Homo sapiens: one gene and its partners. The protein of the gene in region 1 interacts with the protein of each later gene in a biochemical or structural test. Each region holds a gene or a part of one and is shown in the gene's direction. Other genes may lie near its edges.

The links.
Region 2: the proteins of BAD (region 1) and BCL2L2 interact in a biophysical measurement, tested with the Homo sapiens proteins (4 studies listed by BioGRID and IntAct, with this or other methods).
Region 3: of the proteins of BAD (region 1) and AKT1, one has a biochemical effect on the other in vitro, tested with the Homo sapiens proteins (6 studies listed by BioGRID, with this or other methods).

What each region holds. Positions count from the first base shown.
Region 1 is NC_000011.10:64,270,923-64,274,665, reverse strand, and holds part of BAD (bcl2-associated agonist of cell death), read left to right. Parts: intron 1-2,862; coding exon 2,863-3,053; intron 3,054-3,743. UniProt on the Homo sapiens protein: Promotes cell death. Successfully competes for the binding to Bcl-X(L), Bcl-2 and Bcl-W, thereby affecting the level of heterodimerization of these proteins with BAX. Can reverse the death repressor activity of Bcl-X(L), but not that of Bcl-2.
Region 2 is NC_000014.9:23,304,698-23,308,440, forward strand, and holds the start of BCL2L2 (bcl-2-like protein 2), read left to right. Parts: upstream 1-2,135; 5' UTR 2,136-2,197; exon of another isoform or gene 2,198-2,250; intron 2,251-2,494; 5' UTR 2,495-2,582; intron 2,583-3,062; 5' UTR 3,063-3,070; coding exon 3,071-3,502; intron 3,503-3,743. Other genes in the region: BCL2L2-PABPN1 protein, read left to right, coding at 3,071-3,502. UniProt on the Homo sapiens protein: Promotes cell survival. Blocks dexamethasone-induced apoptosis. Mediates survival of postmitotic Sertoli cells by suppressing death-promoting activity of BAX.
Region 3 is NC_000014.9:104,775,149-104,778,891, reverse strand, and holds part of AKT1 (RAC-alpha serine/threonine-protein kinase), read left to right. Parts: intron 1-2,121; coding exon 2,122-2,233; intron 2,234-3,092; coding exon 3,093-3,240; intron 3,241-3,684; coding exon 3,685-3,743. UniProt on the Homo sapiens protein: AKT1 is one of 3 closely related serine/threonine-protein kinases (AKT1, AKT2 and AKT3) called the AKT kinase, and which regulate many processes including metabolism, proliferation, cell survival, growth and angiogenesis.

The sequences.
Region 1 (3,743 bases):
TGTTTTTAGTAGAGACAGGGTTTCACCATGTGGGTCAGGCTGGTCTCGAACTCCTGACCTCGTGATCCACCTGCCTTGGGCTCCCAAAGTGCTGGGATTACAGGCGTGAGCCACCACACCTGGCCTTTTTTTGTATTTTTAGTAGAGATGGGTTTTTGCCATGTTGGGTCAGGCTGATCTCGAACTCCTGGCCTCAAGTGATCCACCTGCCTTGGCCTCCCAAAGTGTTGGGATTACTGGCGTGAGCCACTGCGCCTACTTGCTTTTTTTTTTTTTCTCGAGGTAGAGTTTCACTCTGTCACCCAGGCTGGAGTGCAGTGGCGTGATCTCAGCTCACTGCAAGCTCCGCCTCCCGGGTTCACGCCATTGTCCTGCCTCACCCTCCCGAGTAGCTGGAACTAAGGCGCCAGCCACCATGCCCAGCTAATTTTTTGTACTTTTAGTACAGATGGGGTTTCACCGTGTTAGGATGGTCTCGATCTCCTGACCTCGTGATGCGCCTGCCTCGGCCTCCCAAAGTGTTGGGATTAAAGGCGTAAGCCACCGCACCCGGCCACCTACTTGCTTTCTTAGTCATGTGTCTCATTTATGTGTCCTAGCTGGGACCCCTGGAGGCCCTGCACTGGCCCACAGGCCAGGTCCTCAGGTCCTCTGAGGGGAGAAGAGACATTCCAATGGTTATCCCCCGCCTTCAGTTCCTGGCCTGTAATTTACCTCCTCCAAAGAGCCTCCCTGACAGACATATCTTGCCATAAACACCCAGCATGTTTCCCTACCTGCCTCTCTTTTTTTTTTTTTTTTTTTTTTTTTGAGATGGGTGCAGTGGCGTGATCTTGGCTCACTGTAACCTCTGCTGCCCAGGTTCAAGCGATTCTTCTGCTTCAGCCTCCCGAGTAGCTGGGATTACAGGTGCCTGCCACCGCGCCTGGCTAATTTTTTTGTATTTTTAGTAGAGACGGGGTTTTACCATCTTGGTCAGTCTGGTCTTAAACTCCTGACCTCGTGATCTCCCCAACCTCGGCCTCCCAAAGTGCTGGGATTACAGGCGTGAGCCACTGCGCCCAGCCCCCCACCTGCTTCTCACTCTGTCATTGCACTCTGAGTGTTTGCTCAGGGGAGTGGTTCTAAGTCTTTATCGGTCTGGGTAGAGGAGTGGAGTTGGCAGGAGTTGGGAGATGGCACAGAGCACAGTTCAAATAGACCATAGTAGGCGGGCCTCTGAATAATAACCCATAGTGCACTTGCAGCCTACAAAGCACTTTCTTTTTTCTTTTGTTATTATTATTATTATTTGAGACAGAGTCTCGCTCTGCCACCCAGGCTGGAGTGCAGTGGCACAATCTCGGCTCACTGCAACCTCCACCCACTGGGTTAAAGCAGTTCTCCTGCTTCAGCCTCCTGAGTGGCTGGGACTACAGGCGTGAACCACCACACCTAACTAATTTTTGTATTTTTAGTAGAGACGGAGTTTCACCAGAGTTTGAGGCCAGGCTGGTCTCGAACTTCTGACCTCAGGTGATCCACCTGCCTTGGCCTCCCAAAGTGCTGGGATTACTGGCGTGAGCCACCACGTCTGGCCTTCTTTTATTAATTTTTTAAATTAATAGAGATGGGGTTTTGCAATGTTGCCTAGGCTGGTCTCGAACTCCTGAACTCAAGCAATCCACCTGCCTCAGCCTCCCAAAGTGCTGGGATTACAGGCGTGAGGAATCACGCCCAGCCACAAAGCACTTTCACATTTTTTAATTTTATGTGATGTTCACACAGCCACTGGGAGTCAGGGCTAGGATTATCCCCTCATAAAGGTGAGGACACAGGCTAAGAGAGTCGAAGGCTGGCTAGACAAGGGGAGAGACACAGAGCTCCGCTGATCATCACTGGACTCTGGATTCCACCAAACCTTTGGAACCTTCCAGCCTCAGGCCTCCACAGCTTCACAGAAACTGGGCAAGTCTTAACTCTCTAAGCTTCTGTCTTCTCACCTAAGCATGTTTGGTACTCACCTCCCAGGGTGGTTAGGAGGATAATAAGGGAATGTCTCGGCCTACACGTAAGTGCACCATCAATGGTACCTAAAAACGTCAACAGTTCCAGACACTGTCTCCAGAGAAGGCTCTGTGGGGGATGCGGACATGTAGCGGCCAAGTTCTTGTTCTCCAGGGGCTCTGCAGGTCCCTTGCAGAGGAGGCATTCAATCCTGCCGGCTGTGGCAGGACACTTTCCTATCCAAGGGATTGGCTTCCTCCGATGTAGAACAGACACTATGAAATAGCTACCAACCCAGGGGTTGCCAGGAGGCCCCATGAAGGTCTTGCACTAATAATACTTCTTGCTTTTTTTTTTTTTCTTTTGAGAAAAAAAGCCTGTCGCCCAGGCTGGAGTGCAGTGGCGTGATCTCGGCTCACTGCGACCTCTCCCTCCTGGGTTCAAACGATTCTTCTGCCTCAGCCTCCCGAGTAACTGGGACTATAGGCACGTGCCACTATGCCCAGCTAATTTTTGTGTTTTGAGTAGAGACAGGGTTTCACCATGTTGGCCAGGATGGTCTCGATCTCCTGACCTTGTGATGTAACTAGTATTTCTTATGCCCTTATTTTGTGCTAGGCACAGGGCCTCACCCATTATTGGCACTCGGTAAGGATTCGTGGGATTAATGAGAAGTTAACCTAAATCTTCACCAAAGGCCCCTGAGCTTCCCCTCGATTCACATACAAGGGACTGGGGCTCTGAGAGGTGGGCTGTGATGCGCCCCTGGAAGACCCACGAGTGGGCCTGCAGAGCTGATGGGGAGGGTTCAGGCAGGGCCAGGGGCTTAGAGGAGCTGAGATTAACGTCGCCCCCCTACCCACTGACCCTCTGCAGGCGCTGGGGCTGTGGAGATCCGGAGTCGCCACAGCTCCTACCCCGCGGGGACGGAGGACGACGAAGGGATGGGGGAGGAGCCCAGCCCCTTTCGGGGCCGCTCGCGCTCGGCGCCCCCCAACCTCTGGGCAGCACAGCGCTATGGCCGCGAGCTCCGGAGGATGAGTGACGAGTTTGTGGACTCCTTTAAGGTGAGCGCCAGTCCCCAGCGTGCCAGGACCTGAAGTACCAGGCCGCCCCCCGCCGGTCTGTCCCTGCCTTGTCCCAAGGCACGCCCGGATCTGGAGTCCCACGACCCCTCCCCAAAGCCGTCCTGTTCCTTCCTAGCTCCAGAGCATTCTGGGATTTGTAGTCACAAGACTTCCCCGCCCCCACTCCCCAGCTCTTCCCCCGCCTGGTGTGTGTGTGTGTGTGTGTGTGTGAGTCACAGGGCATGCTGGGATCTGTAGTCTAGATCCCACTCCAGGCGTGTGTGTGTGTGTGTGTGTGTGTGTGTGTGTGTGTGTGAGAGTCACAGGGCATGCTGGGATCTGTAGTCTAGATCCCACTCCAGGCGTGTGTGTGTGTGTGTGTGTGTGTGTGTGTGTGTGTGTGTGAGTCACAGGGCATGCTGGGATCTGTAGTCTAGATCCCACTCCAGGTGTGTGTGTGTGTGTGTGTGTGTGTGAGAGAGTCACAGGGCATGCTGGGATCTGTAGTCTAGATCCCACTCCAGGTGTGTGTGTGTGTGTGTGTGTGTGTGTCAGTCACAGGGCATGCTGGGATCTGTAGTCTAGATCCCACTCCAGGCGTGTGTGTGTGTGTGTGTGTGTGTGTGTGTGTGTGTGTCACAGGGCATGCTGGGATCTGTAGTCTAGATCCCACTCCAGGCGTGTGTGTGT
Region 2 (3,743 bases), on another chromosome or scaffold:
ATATGCATATACAATATAATATATATAATGCATATAAATTAATGTCTAATAAATCATACATTAATTTATGTTACAATCAAGCTGGCCCAGGAGTTTGAGATCAGTCTGGGCAACATAATGAGATCCCTATCTCTATAAAAAATGAATTTAACCAAGCATGGTGCAGTACACCTCTAGTCCCAGCTACCAGGGAGGCTGAAGTGGGAAGATTGCTTGAGCCTAGACGGTGGAAGCTGAAGTGAACTGTGCTTGTACCACTGCACTCCAGTTTAGGCCATGGAGTGAGAACCTTGTATCACAAACAAACAAATAAACCAGGAGTGCAAATGAAGACTTGGACTAGGTTATTCTCTAAAGAAGAGGGCAACCTTGCTGGTGGCAGCCAGAATGATCAGGCTAAGAGCAAAAATGAAATGAGGATGGTTGAAAGGATACAGCCATAAAGGAGTGTAATAGGCTGTGTGTTTAGAATAGAGGAGAGAATTGAGTATGGACTTGTAAATGGTGTGGATTCAGACTATGAGAACCATATTGACTATGTGAAGGCAAGAGGTGATCTTGAAGCGATAGTGTCAAAGTTACAGCATGAGATGGCTGTGCTAGCTTCTTACATATCAGCCTATGGCTTTGGGAAAATCACTTAACCTCTCCAAACCTCAATTTCCTCATTCATAGAATGAGGATAAAACAGCATAAGGACTGGTGAGAGGAAAAAATACACATGTAAAAAAAGCACAGCATCTAATAACTCCTCAAAATATGTTAGTTTTTACCTTTTTTTTTTTTTGAGATAGAGTCTCGTTCTATCACCCAGTCTGGAGTGCAGTGGCATGATCTCAGCCTCCTGGGTTCAAGTGATTCTCATGCCTCAGCCTCCTGAGCAGCTGGGATTACAGGCTGGCTAATTTTTGTATTTTACGTCTGGCTAATTTTTGTATTTTTAGTAGAGATGGGGTTTTGCCATGTTGGTCAGGCTGGTCTCGAACTCCTGGCCTCAAGTGATCCACCCGCCTTGGCCTCCCAAAGTGTTGGGATTACAGGTATGAGCCACCGAACCCAGCTAGTTGTTACTGTTATTGCTGCAGAAAAGACCTTGCTTCTCCAGTGACCATAAGGGAAGATGGTAATACAGAGGCTTGGATTGGAGGTAGAAGCAAAGGGAGCTAGCAGAATAGGAGAATTAGGTTGCCTCTTTCTGGCCTTTGGTTGGGGCACTCTTTAAAAAAGTGCCAGATCCAAGAGCCCAGGGGGCTGGCTGTGAGTGCCCTCATGTGGATCAGCTATGGTCAGACTGCTTCACGCCTGTGACCTGCCCTGTATAAATATACTGCCATGTATAAATAATGGCCCCATATATATGTAATCTGGAAGGATAAACATCAAGCTTAACACTGGCAACCTGCAGGGAGGGAAGTGGAATTGGGTGTGTATGTGTGTGTGTGTTTGAGAACCTGTATTTTATTACTCCGCACGTCTTTATTGTTTGATTTTTTTCATAATGAGAATGAGTTTGTGTGTTGGGTAAAAAAAAGAAAAAGAAAAAAACCCCACTAAAATCAATCTAATTACAAAAGAAGATGAATTAAAGAAAAGTACCGAGAGAAACTGCTTGTGATCCAAGTCCTGGCTCCCTAATGCCTGGCTGAAGCCCAGCCCACAAAGAGAACACTGGGTTAAAGGTCCTGGAGAAAAGATGGGAAAGGTTTGGTGTCTATGTGGTGTCTGCTAGCCCCATAAGGGTAAGGCACCTGGTAGACGGTTCCCAGCTTAATGGGAACTGCTCCTGTTTTCCAGGCACACAGTTCAGGGCTGGAAAAGTTCAACAAGTGCATGGAACATCGGAAACCTCCTGAAAATGCTAAATTTGCCCCGAGATGTCCCGAAGTCCGGCATATTTCTCTGGGCAGCCTAGAGGCTCAGGAGCCCAGCCCAGCCCAGCCCACCGTGCCCTCTCAGCCAGCCCTTCTTTGCCTTCAGCAGCCCTCCCTCTTCCTGAGTAGTGGCCCTTTGCAGGCCTGCGTCCCAGCCCCGCCCCTCTCTCTGGACGCATCTCTGGGCCCCATCATCACCCGGCGCCGGGCCCTCCCTCTGCCCCCCCCTTTCTCCTCCCTCCTTCCTTCCCTCCCTTCCTCCCTCTCTCCCTCCCTCCCAGCTCCTGCACCAGGAAACGGCCCGGATCCCGGCAGCGGCCTGACCCGTGAGATCCCTAACCTGGCAGGCGGGCGGGGTTGGAGACTGGCTGAGGTGGGGGTAAGGGAGGAGCTGGGCCTTTGGGCTGCACTAGGGGGAACCGGGAATAGAGATGGTGTCGGCAGGAAGCCCTTGGCCTTGGGTTTCCCGGGAGGACAGTCATTAAACATGGATTCGGCCACACAGCTGGTAGAGCGTTGGGGGCAGGGGCCTAGGCCCAGAGCTGCAACCCTAGCCCTTCCCAGGCCAGAACCTGATCCCTGGCCTTCCCCTCCTGGTTCTGATCTCCCCCTCCCCTTTCCAGGGCTCCACGCTGGCCAGGAGGATGAAAGGCCCCAGCTGGGGGCTCCTTGCCACCAGTGCTGTGTCTTAAGAGCTGCCATCCCGGCTGGGTGAGTGTCTCCTTCCTTTCTCTGTCTGGAGTAACCCATTGCGTCTCCCACCTTTCTCTTCAGCCCATCTGCTCCCCCTCATCTTGTGTCTCTGCCAACATCTTTACATCTTGCATTTGGGGAGGTCCTAAGACCCTTCCTCTAGCCAAGAAGGTGTGGACTAAGGAGACCCGGGGGTGGGGGTGTTGTAGGGGTGTCATTGAGCTGACGTTGTCTTATTGTGAAAAGAATCTAAAGTATCCTAAACAGAAAATTTACTTGTTTTACATTTAATTTGGCATATTAGGAATGTAATGGCCAGCCACTCACAGCCTAGTCTCATATCATGACTTAATTCCCTTGTTCTTGCCTCTCCCTGTCCAGTGAGTCCTGAGCATTTCCTCTCTCCTCCTCATCTCACTGGGTTGGTCAAACCAGAAGTGCTCCTTCTGATTCTCTCTTCATATATTCATGCCAGTCTTTCATCCTTGCCTCTTATAGCCGCCCGGATGGCGACCCCAGCCTCGGCCCCAGACACACGGGCTCTGGTGGCAGACTTTGTAGGTTATAAGCTGAGGCAGAAGGGTTATGTCTGTGGAGCTGGCCCCGGGGAGGGCCCAGCAGCTGACCCGCTGCACCAAGCCATGCGGGCAGCTGGAGATGAGTTCGAGACCCGCTTCCGGCGCACCTTCTCTGATCTGGCGGCTCAGCTGCATGTGACCCCAGGCTCAGCCCAACAACGCTTCACCCAGGTCTCCGATGAACTTTTTCAAGGGGGCCCCAACTGGGGCCGCCTTGTAGCCTTCTTTGTCTTTGGGGCTGCACTGTGTGCTGAGAGTGTCAACAAGGAGATGGAACCACTGGTGGGACAAGTGCAGGAGTGGATGGTGGCCTACCTGGAGACGCAGCTGGCTGACTGGATCCACAGCAGTGGGGGCTGGGTAAGAAGCTTCTCAATTGCCGCTCTGCACATCCTTCTGCAAAGCTGGTCTCCAGGGGGAAGATGGGGGCTCTGATTGGAGGCTGAGGCAGCTATGTTGGGAATGAGGTACGGGGCTGAGTCTCCCCGTCTGGATGGAATTAGATTGAGAGATGCCTGGACTCTGCACTCCAGGGCTGCCATGCAGTCAACACTGGATGGGCTCATGGTCCCAAGCAGAGGACAGAATACACACCCAAGGA
Region 3 (3,743 bases), on another chromosome or scaffold:
AGAGCGAGGTGCCCACCAGGGGCTGGCCTTAGGTTCCATCCCCATGTGCTGCATCGGCCCCTCCCCTCCAAGTAGCTCTGCCCTCCTTTCTTTGAGGCCTGCGGTCCTCCGACTCCCTTGAACTTGCTGGACCCCCAGGTTCTGGTCCAGGGTCTGGGAGGAGGTTAAATGCAGGGAATCCGTCCCCAGGCTGGGCAGGGAAGGACTCCCACCCTTGGTGCCTGCACGTATAAGGGGAGGTGGGGTCAGTCTGGCACCCTGGCTGCTAGGTGGTCTGTGGCCAGCAAACCGTGCCCTGAAGCTTCTAGTTGGGAGGGGCAGAGGCCTTGCCCTGCAAAGCCCCAGGCTGAGGGGCTGGGGTTGGGGTGGGGTTTACCAGGACCTGGTTCCTGTAAGCCGAGGTCTCCTTCCCTGGCTCTTCCAGCCTCAAGCCAGCAGTAGCAGGGCAGCCTGATAGAGTAGGGCACCCCAGGGGTGAGGGGAGACCAGGAAGGCAGACACCCCTGTCTCCTGACAGCCTCGTAACCATGCAGGAGACTCACTGTGACTTGTCCCACACCCTCCCCAGTGTCTCCTCGGTTGGGGCTGGGGGCTTCAGGGATCAGGGAGAGGCTGGGTGCCAGCAGCGTGCCTGGTGGCACCTGGGACAGGGCCTTGCTGGGGGTGGGTGCTGTGGGTGTGCTCGCCAGGCCGAGGCATTGGGAAGGAACGAGGTGGGGAGCTCTCTGGAGAGGCACACGGGTGGGTACCAGCTGGAGGTGTTGCCTGAGCAGCTGGCAAGGCTGGGGCCTTCAGATTAGGCCATAGGTGAGTGGCCTGGAGCGCCTGGCCAAGGAGCAGAGCTGGGCAGGGGCCAGGGGCTGTGCTGGGCCTCTGTCCGGGGCTTTTCTCCGGGGAACGGTTCCGGGGCAGTGGGCTCGAGACTCTGGCCCTGGGGATTGCATACTGGGGCAGATCGGACCATCCAGGAGCGAGTGGGAGGTGGGTGTGCCGGGGCTTCACACCGGTTTCCACTTCTCTGGCCTGTGTTGACACAGGCCACCCTCCCCACCAGGCTGGTCCCGAGCCCCCTCCTGGCCCCCAGGCCTGGAAGACAGCTTCCTTGCTGCCTGGCCAGGCCCCCTTGTGGTTGCCAGGGCCTCGATGCTGGAATGTCAGAGGCCCCCCACTGGCCCCTCAGCCTCCTCCTGCTTTGCACAGGCTGGGCCAGAGCCTGCCACGGAGCCCCAGCGGCTACACACTCCACTCACTCACACCTCTCAGGGCCCCGCACGTTCCCACAGCCCTCAGGGTGTACGTGCTGTAGGTGTGGCTGTGCCCCAGGTATGTGTTCCCCAGGTGTGCTTGTGCCCCAGGTGTGGCTGTGCCCCAGGTGTGCGTGTGCCCCAGGTGTTCGTGTGCCCCAGATGTGGCTAGGTGTCTAGATGTGTTCTAGATGTCTGTGTATTCCAGTGTGGCTGTGTCCCAGGTGTGCGTGTGCCCCAGGTGTGTGCCTCAGGTGTGCGTGTGCCCCAGGTGTGGCTTTGCCTCCAGTGTGTGTGTGCCCCAGATGTATGTGTGCCCCAGGTGTGGCTGTGCCCCAGGTGTGCCTGTGCCCCAGGTGTGGCTGTGCCCCAGGTGTGCCTGTGCCCCAGGTGTGGGTGTGCCCCAGGTGTGGGTGTGCTCCAGGTGGCTGTATTTCCCAGGTACTCAGGGTGAGGTTGGGAAAAAAGCAGGACATTTCTACACTAGGTGGGACAAGCAGGTTTCTGGGGTGCCCCCCTCATGCCAGCCCCTCTGTGGGATCTCCATACCCCTCATCCTCTGAGGCCTGGCGCACGGCGGGGCTCAGAGACTGAAGGAAGGACTGTAGGAGTGGACGATGGTGGGGGTTTGACCTGACGCCGGGCCAGATGCCCTGTGTGGCTGCCTCAGCCTGGAGTAGAGTGTCTGAGCTGGAACAGGGGTCCTAGCCCCACTCTGTGAGGCGAGAAACTGAGGCTTGGAGAGAGGAAGAGATGGGGCTTCCCAGGACCTGGTGGGTGGTATGCAAGGGGAGCTGGCTGGTGCAGCGGGGGCTGTGGTGAGGGCCCTGGGAGGGGCAGGGGGATGCACGCAGACAGAGGCTCTGCCTGCCCGCAGAGTGCCAGCTGATGAAGACGGAGCGGCCCCGGCCCAACACCTTCATCATCCGCTGCCTGCAGTGGACCACTGTCATCGAACGCACCTTCCATGTGGAGACTCCTGAGGAGCGGTACGTGGGCTGTGGCGGCCAGGCCAGGCACTTGGGCAGCCCCAGCGCTTAGGAGGGACACGGGGATGGCGGGGTGCTGGCACCTCTGCCTGTAGCCATCCTCACTCCCCAGTGCTCCCAGGCCCTCCTCAGAGCCCAGTTTGGAAACTGGCCCAGTCCTGCCTGTGGGGTTTGGGTGGGGAAACTGAGGCTGGAGATAAAAACTGGCTAGGGACCGGGTGCAGTGGCTCACGTCTATAATCTCGGCACTTTGGGAGGCCGAGGTGCGCAGATCACTTGAGACCAGGAGTTTGAGACTAGCCTGCCAACATGGTGAAACCCCCGTCTCTACTAAAAATATAAAACTTAGCTGGGTGTGGTGGTGCACACCTGTAATCCCGGCTACTTGGGAGGCTGAGGCACAAGAATCGCTTGAACCCGAGAGGCAGAGGCTGCAGGAGCCGAGATTTTACCACTGCACTCCAGCCAGGGCGATAGAGCAAGACTCCGTCTCAAAAAAAGAAAAACCCGGTGGAGAGGGCCAGTCCTCCTTGGGGGGCGGAGTCCTGCTTGGGAGGCGGAGTCCTGCTTGGGGGGGGCGGAGTCCTGCTGGGGGGCGGAGTCCTGCTGGGGGTTGGAGTCCGGTTGTGGGGACAGAGTCCTGCTGGGGGGCTAAGCCTGGGTGTCCCCCACGTCCAAGAGGGCTTCGTGACCCTGAGTGTATGTGGCCAGACCAGGTCAAGTGGTGGCCTCCTCAGGGCTGTCTCTGGGAACCCCGACAGCTGTGGAACCACGCTTGTGAGGCTGGCGGGTGGGTGAAAGACGTGGGGTGGAGCTCCTGATCTGGTACAGGCCTGCAGCCTCACCTGACCTCCTGCAGGGAGGAGTGGACAACCGCCATCCAGACTGTGGCTGACGGCCTCAAGAAGCAGGAGGAGGAGGAGATGGACTTCCGGTCGGGCTCACCCAGTGACAACTCAGGGGCTGAAGAGATGGAGGTGTCCCTGGCCAAGCCCAAGCACCGCGTGGTGAGGCCTGTCCCCACTTCTGCCTGTGCCTGGGGCTGCCTTGGACTGTGGAGGGCTGGGTGGGTCATGGGGTCCCAGCTCGGCCCAGGAGACACTCAGCACTCCACGGCATCTCCACCTAGGCCGGTTTTCCATGTAGGGCGCAGCTGCTTCCCAGGTGGGTCCTCTTCCCCATGTCAGAGGAAAACTGGGGTTGCTGAGCCCTGCCAGGCTTGGGCAATGTTACCCCACCCTTCCCTGAACCCCATGCTCTGAGCTGGGGCCGCAGCCATGTGTTCCCTGTAAGCCTGGACTCCCCGCTGAGCCCAGTAGGCCACCAGGTGTGAAGTGGACGCCTCTCCTGGCTCTGCCTCCGACTCTGGGGCCCCTCATGCCACCCCACGCATGCCGACCAGCTGGGCACTGTTGGCAGCGCCGCTTGCTGACCCTGGTGCCTGCCCATAGACCATGAACGAGTTTGAGTACCTGAAGCTGCTGGGCAAGGGCACTTTCGGCAAGGTGAT